Regions from separate parts of the Homo sapiens genome. Here regions 1, 2 and 3 are each reported to be linked to region 4. The links are microRNA targets in miRTarBase. Many come from high-throughput screens and were not tested one by one. Region 4 holds a microRNA gene; each other region holds the end of a gene's coding sequence.
Evidence for each region. The annotated mature microRNA hsa-miR-744-3p reads CUGUUGCCACUAACCUCAACCU and lies in region 4 at 1,118-1,139, opposite strand. An mRNA with a match to its seed (bases 2 to 7 or 8) in the 3' UTR can be bound and repressed. Matches are read on the target gene's strand: a 7mer-m8 pairs with bases 2 to 8, a 7mer-A1 pairs with bases 2 to 7 and ends in A, and an 8mer does both.

Region 1: miRTarBase lists TKFC as a target of hsa-miR-744-3p. Seed matches in the 3' UTR shown: 7mer-m8 at 2,037-2,043 and 8mer at 1,873-1,880.
Region 2: miRTarBase lists HYCC2 as a target of hsa-miR-744-3p. Seed matches in the 3' UTR shown: 7mer-m8 at 56-62.
Region 3: miRTarBase lists LAYN as a target of hsa-miR-744-3p. Seed matches in the 3' UTR shown: 7mer-m8 at 1,055-1,061.

The regions. Positions count from the first base shown.
Region 1 is chr11:61,346,273-61,349,394 of GRCh38, reverse strand. It overlaps TKFC (triokinase and FMN cyclase), which reads right to left. Exons shown (of 18, transcript NM_015533.4): 18 at 153-3,044. The coding sequence ends at 2,892. It overlaps CYB561A3 (cytochrome b561 family member A3), which reads left to right. Exons shown (of 7, transcript NM_153611.6): 7 at 1-590. Among named protein-coding and RNA genes, the nearest start is that of CYB561A3, 14 kb to the left of the region's middle.
Region 2 is chr2:200,978,456-200,981,567 of GRCh38, forward strand. It overlaps HYCC2 (hyccin PI4KA lipid kinase complex subunit 2), which reads right to left. Exons shown (of 13, transcript NM_001321623.1): 13 at 1-3,112. The coding sequence ends at 2,815. All of the region lies in intron 1 of LOC105373835 (a long non-coding RNA gene), which reads left to right. Among named protein-coding and RNA genes, the nearest start is that of ORC2, 16 kb to the left of the region's middle.
Region 3 is chr11:111,560,282-111,563,403 of GRCh38, forward strand. LAYN (layilin) reads left to right here. Exons shown (of 7, transcript NM_178834.5): 7 at 1-1,464. The coding sequence ends at 177. Among named protein-coding and RNA genes, the nearest start is that of LAYN, 21 kb to the left of the region's middle. RefSeq lists a silencer at 1,723-2,017.
Region 4 is chr17:12,079,983-12,083,104 of GRCh38, reverse strand. MIR744 (microRNA 744) reads right to left here and starts at 1,206; the gene lies at 1,109-1,206. It overlaps MAP2K4 (mitogen-activated protein kinase kinase 4), which reads right to left. Exons shown (of 11, transcript NM_003010.4): 3 at 1,575-1,749.

The DNA.
Region 1 (3,122 bases), not on the chromosome of region 4:
ACCACTCTGCAGCTCACCATGCAGCTGATGCCAAAGTTGTGGTGTCCAGTGTGCAGCAGCCCTGGGAGCCACTGCCACCTTCAGAGGGGTTCCTTGCTGAGACCCACATTGCTTCACCTGGCCCCACCATGGCTGCTTGCCTGGCCCAACCTAGCGTTCTGTGCCATGCTAGAGCTTGAGCTGTTGCTCTTCTTCAGGGGAGGAAATAGGGTGGAGAGCGGGAAGGGTCTTGCTCCTAAGTGTTGCTGCTGTGGCTTTTTTGCCTTCTCCAAAGACGCACTGCCAGGTCCCAAGCTTCAGACTGCTGTGCTTAGTAAGCAAGTGAGAAGCCTGGGGTTTGGAGCCCACCTACTCTCTGGCAGCATCAGCATCCTACTCCTGGCAACATCAGGCCAACGTCCACCCCAGCCTCACATTGCCAGATGTTGGCAGAAGGGCTAATATTGACCGTCTTGACTGGCTGGAGCCTTCAAAGCCACTGGGATGTCCTCCAGGCACCTGGGTCCCATGACCAGCTCCCCATCTCCATAGGGGTAGGCATTTCACTGGTTTATGAAGCTCGAGTTTCATTAAATATGTTAAGAATCAAAGCTGTCTTTGTTCAGGCTGCTATAACAAAAATATAATAGCCTGGGTGGCTTAAACAACAAGTGTTTATTTCTCACAGTTCTGGAGGCTATAGACATCCAAGATGAAGGCGCTGGCAAATGTGGTGTGTGGCAAGGGCCAGCTTCCTCAGAGACCATCTTCTCACCATAACCTCACATGGTGGAAAGGGCGTGAGAGCTCTCTGGGGCTCCACCCTCATAACCCCATCACCTCCCAAAGGCCCCACGTCCTAACACTACCATAGTGGGGGTGAGCCTTTCAACACAGGAATTTGGGGGGGACACAAACATTCAGTCTCTAATAACAGCCCTCTAATGAAATGATGCTGTGGTTAAATGAGTTCTGGGCCAATTTGTAAAAGCCTCAGGACAGGTCTGACCCTCACAGACCTAGGGAGGGGCCAACCGGAAGGCACCAAAGATCCACATGATCCTCTGTCTTCATGGAATGGCATGTGTGGATTCACATGCAGCTCATTTATGTGCGTGTCCTTAATAGCTAATGGCACGTGCTTATCTCACGAGGAAGGAAATTTTTCCTATTTCATAATCTGAGAAAACAAGACTCAAAAAGGGTGACTAGGTTGAGGTCACCCAGCCAGGAAATGACAGAGCTGGGATCCACAGGCCACCGTCTGAGGTCAGCCTCCTTCCCAGCTGCTGGGCGCATACTCCTGTGCACGTGGATGCCTTGTGGTCAGGGACGTATGGTGCAGCCGACAGACAGGACCCTGGGTAGAGAAGCCCAGGCACTCGGGGAGCCTGCAGCCAAATTTGGGCCAAGTAGGTGACGGGGGTTGGGAGGGCAGGAGGCTCTTTCCTACCAGCTAGTGGTAGAGCAGATGACCTGGGAGGGGCTGGGGGCCCAACCCCTGTGATAACCGTAACTCTCAGTGAGTGAGCACTTGGACTGTGCTGGGCTTTATGGCCCATCTTCATCAATTCATTTGAATCCTTTCATGTCCCCATGAGGTGGGTACCATTCTGATTTTACAGATCCCAAAGGGCTAAAAAATAGGCCTTAGCTCCTGTAGCCGGGTTAAAGCAGAATCAGATTTCAGATCATGTGTATGAGTCGACAGCCAGTGCCTTTAACCACTCCCTACCCTACATGTGTGCCAGGCATGTGCTGTTTGTCTCCACATGCATACAGTGCCCCTGCTCACCCTGGTGCCATCAGTGATCGCTCTAGAAAGAGACCTAGGGGCTGGCTTGGCTGCAGTTTCTTTTTTTTTTTTTTTTTTTTTTGAGACAGGGTCTCGCTTTGTTGCCCAGGCTGGAGTATAGTGGCATGCTTATGGCTCACCGCAGCCTCGACCTCCTGGGCCCAAGCCATCCTCCCAACTCAGCCTCCCAAGTTAGGACTATAGGCACACACTACTATGCCTGGCTAATTTTGTATTTTTTGGTAGAGACAGGGTTTTACCATGTTGCCCAGACTGGTCTTGAACTCCTGAGTGTAAGGGATCCGCCTGCCTTGGCCTCCCAAAGTGCTGGGATTGCAGGTGTGAGCCACCGTGCCCGGCCTGGCTGCATTTTTTGATCTACAACTGAACCTTAGACTATGATGATTTCTTTTCCTTCTGGTGTCCCAAATGCCCATTCGACTCCCGAGGAGCCACTGAATTATTAATTCAATGCTAAGAAAAGCCCCTCTACCATTCTTACATGCATCAGGTGTGTGTACTGGAAAGGGGATGGGTCGGGGGTCTCAGTGGAAGCAGCCCAGCTGAGGAGACACTGCCTTAGGGGCTCAGGTAATAAAGATCTGCCTGGTAGAAGATGGGTCATGATGCCTGCAGCCAGGGCTGTGGGCCCCCTTGTTTACATGCTTGGGAAAAGGTCCCTCAGAGGAGGCAGTGTCTTTCTTGCTTCCATGTATTATAGTTTATTAACTTTCTTTTTCACGCTCACTGGGGTTAAGGTGCGGAAAGCATTTCACAGGGAGTCTTAAAACCAAATTAGGATTGCCAGGTAAAGGCTGCACAAGGAAAATGCCTTATCTCTGAAGCCCAGAGCTGGCAGGGGAGGGCATGACCCAGGGACTCCACCCTCCTGCAAAGGGAAAGGGCATGCTGGAGAGGCATGGGGACCCACTCCAGCTCACTCTGGGTGCTGTCTGTAGTTCTGGAAGCTTGGTGGAGGATTTCCTGCTCAACTTAGAGGGTGGGCCAATGGGGCCAGGCCGGGGGAAGGTGAGGGTTGGAAGGCAGAAGGAAGTGACAAAGGCCACCTCAGCACAGCAGTGAGAGGAGCTGAGGCCAAGGGAGGCAGTCACACACCCTAGCTCTGCAAGACCTCCAAGATGGCCCGGAGGATGGCAGCAGCTGCCACCGCCCCGGGGTCTGGCTGCTCCAGCCGTGCTGAGCTGATATAACTGGCTCTTCCGGCTCCAGCTTCCATATTCTTGGTGGCCTCGGCTGCAGCTTCGGCACTCTGGGGGATGGGGTGTGGGAGCAGGTTCAAGGGCAGATCACCAGGCCGCCTCCTTCCTGCCATGGGCAGAACGTCTCT
Region 2 (3,112 bases), not on the chromosome of region 4:
AAGATGAACTTTTTTTTTTTTTTTTTTTTTTTTTTTCAGAGATGGAGTCTTGCACTGTTGCCTAGGCTGGAGTACAGTAGTGCATTCTTGGCTCACTGCAACCTCCACCTCCCAGGTTCAAGAGATTCTCCTGCCTCAGCCTCCCGAGTAGCTGGGATTACAGGCGCCTGCCACCACGCCCAGCTAATTTTTTGTATTTTTAGTAGAGACAGGGTTTCACCATGTTGGCCAGGCTGGTCTCGAACTCCTGACCTCATGATTCACCCACCTCAGCCTCCCAGAGTGTTGGGATTACAGGCGTGAGCCACCGTGCCCGGCCAAGATGAACATTTTTTAAAACCAATTTTTCAGGTATAACATAAGATTTCTAGCCAAAGGAAAATTTTGTTGTATTAATTCTAACATTTGCTGTGATTTGGTATTATGTGGTATTTCTTTTGTGCTCTAACCAAAATCATGCTAGATTTAGATGCCAATAAATGCACAATTTGAATTGAAAACAGTCTTTTTACCTCCCAAATAATTTATGCCATAAAGTGACTGACCTCCAGCCATAGCCAAGATCTCACTTTCTTTTTTATTTTTTATTTATTTTTAATTTTTTTTTAGATCTCACTTTCTAGGTAAGTATAATGTTCCTTTCCTTACATACCTGAAACTGCCTGTTTTAGTATGTTATGGGCCTTTATAGCTCATTTATTTTGGCTATTTTTAAACTCCTTTCATTTATTTGACATCCCTTAAATTAAAAGAAAGGGTATTTAAAATATTTAAAATACAACTTTGTGATATATACATATACACACCATACACACACACACACACACACACACACACACACAGACACACACAAAACAATAAATTGTCTACTTATCAACTTTTAGCTTTACCCTGGACTTTGGCAATGTTGTAGATACTAGTTCAGGTTCTAGTTTTCCATTTTCACATGAGCTGGAAAAATGTTACAGACCACCATATTTAAACAAGCATCTCATATATAAAGAGTCTAACAGAAAGTCTCTTAGGGAAAAAAGAAAGTCCTTACAATAAAAACGGGAGGATTGCTAGGTGTGAAAAAAAAAAAGGCGTTTTTTCTGGTTATTTATCAAAATCTATTGTAATTTTAATGGTAGAGATAAAATTTTAACTTTTGCTAATTAGGAGAATACTTGCTTTCTATAAATTCAGTATATTTTTCTTAAACAATAATCAAGTAAAAACATCTAAATGTACAAAGCACTGATAGCTCTGATGTATTCTGTGGAAGGATAACTTATAACAGTTTAAGTCACAATACACTTTTTTAAAACCCAATATATTCCCTTCTTTTTCAAACATCAGAGCCTGAGACCCAGAAAAGTTATGATAAAATCTTATCCAACCAGATCAGAACTAAGGAAATTTTTTTTACCAATAATGTTTTTGTAACCTCTTAGCAGTTACCAAATGCTACTTACATACATTCAACATCTAGCTTACTGGCATGATATCAAAGTTTTATAAAAATGAGGAACTGCAGATATATGATTAGAAGGTACACAAATTGCATTACATTAAACACAAAGGCAGTGTGGTCCTTGTAGGAGAAATCAAGGTCAGTACCCCCTGGTAGAAATGTTCTATAAAAATGTGTCACATTGAAGTATCAGTGTTTCAGCCAATTGTCTGTCCCTGATATATTTCCTTGGAGTATGTAATGTATCAGGACTTTAGGTTTCTTAATCCAAAATGTCTGACTGAATTTAGGTACATCTAGAAAGCAGCTGAAAGGGTTTCTCTTATAGTCTGACATAACAGAAAGTAGATTGAGAAATCCCTCTCTTTACCTGAAGATGTACTGTTACACTTCAGCCATCAGCTCACAAAGGAAAAGAAGAAAAAAAAATCAAATCTCCTCTCACACACACAATCTCCACAAAAGCTAAACAAAAACTACCCCCCGCCCCCACAAAACCCCAGCACCAAAGTGTCAATCATTCCTGGGAAATAGAACATGCCCCTCAGATTCTGATTTGTTAGTTGGCCAAACTTGAAGGACAGAAATGACCTTATATGTCCTTGTGGGGAAGAGGGAAGACACGTTAATAATGACTATACAGCCATTGAGAAAGTGCATTATCAATTACACAATCAAGAGTCCTGCCCTCCAATGGAGGTGGTCACAACTTGATTTAAATGCCTCCGTAATTGAACATTTATGTCTTCGGGATAAAGGAGATGGGGGGGTGGAGAAAGAGCTACCCTCATTTTAATGAAAAAGTGCAGCAGTCTACCACCTTTCCCCATGCTTCTCCAGAAAATGATTGCACAGACTCAGAGAAGTCCAAAGTCATAGCAGAATCTCTGAGGCACTCCTGGTTAAGAGAAAAAAATATGATCCAGTAATCTTCATAGTTCTATAGATTATGAGAACAAACCCGTTTTGTTTTTAAACAAAAGCCAAAGAATCGTTTCATAGGGATCATATACACCATTTCCTCTAATGTACCCTCAGTCTCACAGTGTTGAAATGGGACCGATCAGCCTACGATGGATTGCACATCACCCAAGGAGAAAGGAAGGCATGGAAAAGGCAACCATTTTATACTGCTTCACAAACACATTTACAAGGGATAGGTGAAGAGAAGATGTAGGAAAGAGGGATAAAGAAAACCTTATTGCTGTTTTGATACAAAATACAGTATGAAGATACCTAAACTAAATGAAATCTGATAACAGTGACCAATATTTTCACAATGTGGGATGAAGTGTCTTCTTGCACAATGAAATGTTCAGTTTAAAAGGTAAGCAGAAAGATGAGGGAGGATGTCAAAACTACACCTGGGATATTAGCTGCATATTGAAACTTGGGGATCGAGACTGCTTGGTCAAGGGGGCTCCTGGGCTGAGGAGCTCTTTACCTTCGCCAGCTTGACCTAGCCGGTCTTCCTGCAGACTGACAGTTGAGTATCGATTAGCATTGTTGGCTGCTAAATTAGTACCTCCCTCAGTGCCAACCCCAATGCTGGTACTTGCTTGACTGCCATTTACATAGTCAAATGATTTACTTGAGGAAGCACTGGCTGTCCGGATTAGACTTAAGCTATTGATTTTTGGCACCACCTGGCCAGCA
Region 3 (3,122 bases), not on the chromosome of region 4:
GATGACATGTCTTGTGACTATGACAACATGGCTGTGAACCCATCAGAAAGTGGGTTTGTGACTCTGGTGAGCGTGGAGAGTGGATTTGTGACCAATGACATTTATGAGTTCTCCCCAGACCAAATGGGGAGGAGTAAGGAGTCTGGATGGGTGGAAAATGAAATATATGGTTATTAGGACATATAAAAAACTGAAACTGACAACAATGGAAAAGAAATGATAAGCAAAATCCTCTTATTTTCTATAAGGAAAATACACAGAAGGTCTATGAACAAGCTTAGATCAGGTCCTGTGGATGAGCATGTGGTCCCCACGACCTCCTGTTGGACCCCCACGTTTTGGCTGTATCCTTTATCCCAGCCAGTCATCCAGCTCGACCTTATGAGAAGGTACCTTGCCCAGGTCTGGCACATAGTAGAGTCTCAATAAATGTCACTTGGTTGGTTGTATCTAACTTTTAAGGGACAGAGCTTTACCTGGCAGTGATAAAGATGGGCTGTGGAGCTTGGAAAACCACCTCTGTTTTCCTTGCTCTATACAGCAGCACATATTATCATACAGACAGAAAATCCAGAATCTTTTCAAAGCCCACATATGGTAGCACAGGCTGGCCTGTGCATCGGCAATTCTCATATCTGTTTTTTTCAAAGAATAATAAAATCAAATAAAGAGCAGGAAACAGAGTGTTAGTCTGTGTCTACAGCCCTTCCTCTGCATGTGGCCACAGGGGACCTTTTTTTGTTTCTCCTGACATCCAGACTTGGAAATATCTAACTACTTGCAAAACTAAAAATGAGGCCAGGCGCAGTGGCTGACGCCTGTAATCCCAGAACCTTGGGAGACCAAGATTGGAGGATAGCTTGAGTTCAGGAGTTCCAGACCTTCCTGGGCAAAATAGTGAGACTCTGACTCTACAAAAAATTTAAAAATTAGCAGGGCATGGTGGCATGCGCCTGCAGTCCCAGCTACTCAGGAGGCCGAGGTGGGGGAATTGCTTGAGCCCAGGAGGTTGAGGCTGCAGTGAGCTAGGATCACGCCACTGCTCTCCTGCGTGGGCAACAGAATGAGACCCTGTCTCTAAACAAAAATATTTTTTAAAGAAACTAAAAATGAAATTTGAGTCTCAGCTTCTAGGCTTATGTACTCCCATCCCTGATACTACACGTTGTTCTGTTTGCATGTTTGTTACTGCAGCATCAACATAACATGACTAATAATGATGACAGTTCTACCTTTTGTTGACAGACCTCATTGTTTCAATTGTGTTTGGCCTCAAATTCAGAGAAAAGTTTCTCAGCCCAGCATCAATCATATACACATTGGAGGTCTGAAAGCCATTATTTAAATCACCAGCAATTTCCCTCAATCAGCTTCATAATCTCATATTTTAACCTTTCCTCATATGTCTTATTTTTTAATAGCTCAGCAACTTTGCTTCACATATGGAGCCCCAACCTCTAGAGTTAACTAGTCTGGGTCAAAGCAGTATCGAATGTAGTGGATTGGAATCCCTGCCAAATTATCTGCCCTACTGCAGAACTGAATATACTAGGAAACAAAACTCCCTGTTTTGGGAAGTGTGTTTTGTGGTTACATTTCAAGCAAAAACTGAGCACATGGTCCTGAAGGACTGATTCACTGCTCTAAAATGCCCAAGGTTCCATTCTTGCTTCAGACAGCCTCGCTCTATCATCTGCCCTGTATCCTGCACTGTGCCCCACAACTCTGGCCCTTATTACACTGCAAGCTTCGCTAGTAGGAATCCTATCTGCCGGTCAGCATCATGGGTCCTGCAACCCATGGCAGCACCTTGCAGGGTAGGCAATCAATGTCTATTGAATGGATGAACAATGCATCTTTTCAGACTGATGTCAAATAGTTTGAATATTTCAGCTTAAAAGTTTGTTTTTCACAGTCCCCCTAGGTGGAGGAGGTAACTGAGTCATTGTAATTGGAATGCCTCCCAAGAAGGAAGCATAGTAACAAGTAAACAGATGCTGGTGAATTGTGCTAACAACTTACTTTATGTCACTCATGCTTGAACTGAGGACCCACTGTTAATCTATAAAGGGAGTAAGGTTGTAATCAGAACAGACCCTCAGCATCTTCCCTTCCCTTTTTTCATTAATGTGTTGTCTCTTCTGGGACCTAGAGATCTCTTCTGTGTTTGTACACAGCCAGTCTTACCCTGCATTTTAATTATTCACTTTCTTTTTCCTCCTCAGGTTTACTAGCCTGAGTTTACCCAACTCCATTTCTATCTCTAATAATTGCACTTCACTTATGTAACAAATATTTGCTAAATGTTAAGGGTTTGCTATGTTCCCGTTGAGCTTGAGCTTATTCATTAAGCTAGTATCATATGGAAATTTAGTAAGTTTGTTTCATAATTGCTATGATTTGAATGTTTGCCCCCTTCAAAACTCAGGTTGGCCAGGCATGTTGGCTCATGCCTGTAATCCCAGCACTTTGGGAGGCTGAGGCAGGAGGATTGCTTGAGCCCGGGAGTTCAAGACCAGGCTGGGCAACATAACGAGACCCCGTCTCTACAAAAAATAAGAAAATTAGCTGGGTGTGGTAGTGCATGCCTATAGTCCCAGCTATGCAGGAGCTGAGGTGAAAGGATTACTTGAGCCCAGAGGTCAAGGTTGCAGTGAGCTCTGATCATGCCACTGCACTCCAGCCGGAGTGACAAGTGACATCCTGTTTCAAAAACAAACCAACCAAGAAAAAAAGACAAAAAAAACCTCATGTAGAAACTTATTCCCCAATGTGGCAGTATTGACAGGTGGGGTCTTTAAGAGATGATTGGGTCATGAGGGCTTTGCCCTCATGGATTAATGGGTTTTCACAGGAGTAGGACTTGTGGCTTTATAAGAAGAGGAACAGAGACCTGAGCTAGCACCCTCAGGCCCCTCACCGTGTTACGCCCTGCGCTGCCTCAGGACTCTATAGAGAGTCTCCACCAGCAAAAAGACGCTCCCACATGCAGCCCCTCAACCTTGGACTTCTCGGCCTCCAGAACTATAAGAAATACATTTTGTTTCTTTATAAATTACCCAGTTTTAGGTATTCTGTTACAAGCAATAGGAAATGGACGAAGACAACCATTTAAAACCGTA
Region 4 (3,122 bases):
GGAAATAATTTTTTAAAATTACTTTCCCTAGTACCTGAAAGAAAAGTTTACAACTTTAACTATATAGGAAACCTTTCCCTTAAGATCCAGCCAACTAAAACTGGATGTCACACACAGGTAGCACAAAGGGACAACACAACATTCATCCAGGAGTCTAAATAAAATGACTCTTTCCACTTACACTGCAGTGGCACAAAATAGGAATACAGAAATCATTTCACATTCCAATAAAACATTTTATTTTAACACATAATGCAGAGTTCTTCACCTGTGCATCTTTAGAGGTCTACGGTTTGTATACAAAATGTTGTGTATATACACCTGCCTATGAAAAGTCTATAGTTCTCACCACATTTTAAAAATACAGCCAAAAACAATGTTAGGAACCCATAGAGAGAATCATAAAAATTTTCCCTACCACTAATTTAACATTACTTTCATATGACCCAGCAAAAAGAAATGCTCAACAGTGAAGGATACTAAAATAGTTACAGTAAGGTTTGGCTCACAACAGACTTCTACACAGAAAGCATTTTATTTTAATTTAAATTCATTCTCAAATGTCAAGAAAAAACTAAGGACTCTTATCAACCACTCTGACAAACTCTCAAAATAGGACACTAATAGGAAGATGATTAGCTTGGACTATATGCAAATCCATTCTGAATTCTTGTAAACTGAAACATTTTTGTTCCCATAGGAATTTTAAGCTCAGAGAGGGTATGGCCACAGCTAGCTTTTTTTCCTTTGTTTTTGCAAGTTGTTCCCCCTGTTGCTGATTTTCCTGAAATATCTTACATACAGCAAAGATTTGTTAAACATCTAAACAAACAAATGAATAAATTACAATTACATGAAACTAGGAGTCAGATGGAAACCACCAGTTCTTTACAGGTACCAGCATAAGCTTGCCAGGTATTGTCTATGGATCAAATCTCTGTTTCTGGCCATTTTTTTTTTTTAATGAACATATTAAGTGGCACGACACAATAAGGACAAAATGTGACAACATTATCACAAGGTATGCATTTCAGTACAACTTTAAAACCAGGGAACAGGGCAGTACTGAGTAGAGATGAAATAAACAAACAGAAGCCGAGCCGGTCAGGACCGAGTAAGGTTGAGGTTAGTGGCAACAGCATGTGCGTGGTTTCCAGGAAACCTTCAGTAAGACTGCTGTTAGCCCTAGCCCCGCACCTTGCCCAACCCAGTGTGCTGCGTCTTCTTCCAGCTCCCGCCTGGCTCAGTGCAGCACTGCCCTGCTCCCAGGGGTGCAGCCGCCCAGCCTGAACTCACCTTGGCAGTAGAAGGGCCTGAAGTTTAAAACATGTTAATGCATCATGCCAAAAATGCAATCAACATGCACACTTCATACACTCATGTTTCCAAAGAGATAGAAAATGTGCCACCAATAAGAAACCTCTACACAGAACACCCTCAAAGGAGTTGGAGAAACAATTTTTTAAACACCCACATTTACCACAAAAGTAGGAACACAACAACAGTGGTATTACTGCACCATGAAATTTCACCTAATGGATTAAAGTACCAAAAATAATCATGGCATCACCTACTTTAACTGCCATTATTTGCCCACTTGGTTTGTGGACCATTTTGTTGACAGAACCATAAGCTCCTCGTCCAATTTCTCCAAGGTCTTTCAAGTCCTCTGCAGTGAAATCCCAGTGTTGTTCAGGGGAGATCTTCAGTTTTCCTGATGACTCAATGCTGTGTGTTCTCAGTCTCTCTCTGTTAAAATATTGGGAAGCAATTTTTCCACATTTTAAATAGGTTTTAACTTTTTTCTTTTAGTACTGATTAATGTGTGGGAAAAATGTTTTCTAAATTACTAAAATAGTCTGACCTCCAGGTTTTTGAAGTTTTTCATTTGTGTCATCCTGGTTTTTTACACACTGGATTAAGAATGATCTAGATTTAGGTAGTCAATAGACACAGCTTCAACGGGATTCATAAAAACAAATTGCCAAGAAGATTTTTAAAAATTCCCATTTATTGATTAAACTAATTCTGCAGATCAGTTTTCATTTCTAAATATAAGATCTTATTCAAACTTGGATGATGGTTTATCCAAACAGCATTATCAAGTGAGAATCCCAAGAGCTGCAAACCTTATTGCGAAAAAGTTCTTACCCTATCTTACCCAACATTAGTTATTCCAGTGCCTCAATCTTCAGTTAGTACAACTATTCCCAAGGTTTGCTGTACCTTACAATCACCTGGGGGAGATTTTAAAAATCTCAATGCCCAGGTATCGTCCCATAGCAATTACATCTGAATTATCCAGGGACAGGAGTCAGAAAACAGTATTTTTAAAGACCCCCAGATGATTCCAGTAATGTTTGGGAACTAGTGCCTTAGTATACTGTCCTGTTCTTGTTAATACCATCCTGAGGTGGGAGAACAGTTAACTGAATAGCTAGCTGGCTCTAAGAGGAAAATTGCCATGTGCTATTCAAAATTGAAATTTTCAGCCCTCGTTCGATAAAGCAATGGGATAAAAAATGAGTGGCTCGTAGACAAAAGAGCTCACTCATTACATATTTCCATTAAATAAAAAATCATCTCCAAAATCTCAACCTGGAGATCAAAGTATTAATAACTTCTAACCATGCTTTGTAAAAAAGTAAATCCAATGAAAAATGTAAAATCAATCTGTTTCTCTCTCTTGCTCTCTCTCACACACACACCAAACCCCAATGTGTAGGAACAAACTATCAACCATACACACAATGAAAGAATTCATTAAATATCAACTACATTTTTCAGTTTCATACTAAATGATCAGGATCTCTTTTAAACTCTGATCCTATGATGCAAACAAGCAAAGTTTATGTGCTTGGTCATTATTTTTCTTCTTCCAAAATTTAGGAAAGTTTTCTCCAATTAGTAGAATGGTTTTCTGTAGCAACCTTTAAGGTTCCCAAAAAACTTAGAACTTTAAAATCTACCCCCACTCTGAGAATAATCGTATGTACTAATATTAAGGTTCAAAGTTACACTTCAAAGATTCATACACTTGGTCTAAATAACAATTTACTAAATCAGTGTTCCAAATAACAGACTTTCAAATCATACTAAGTGATAAGCTTTCATTCATACAA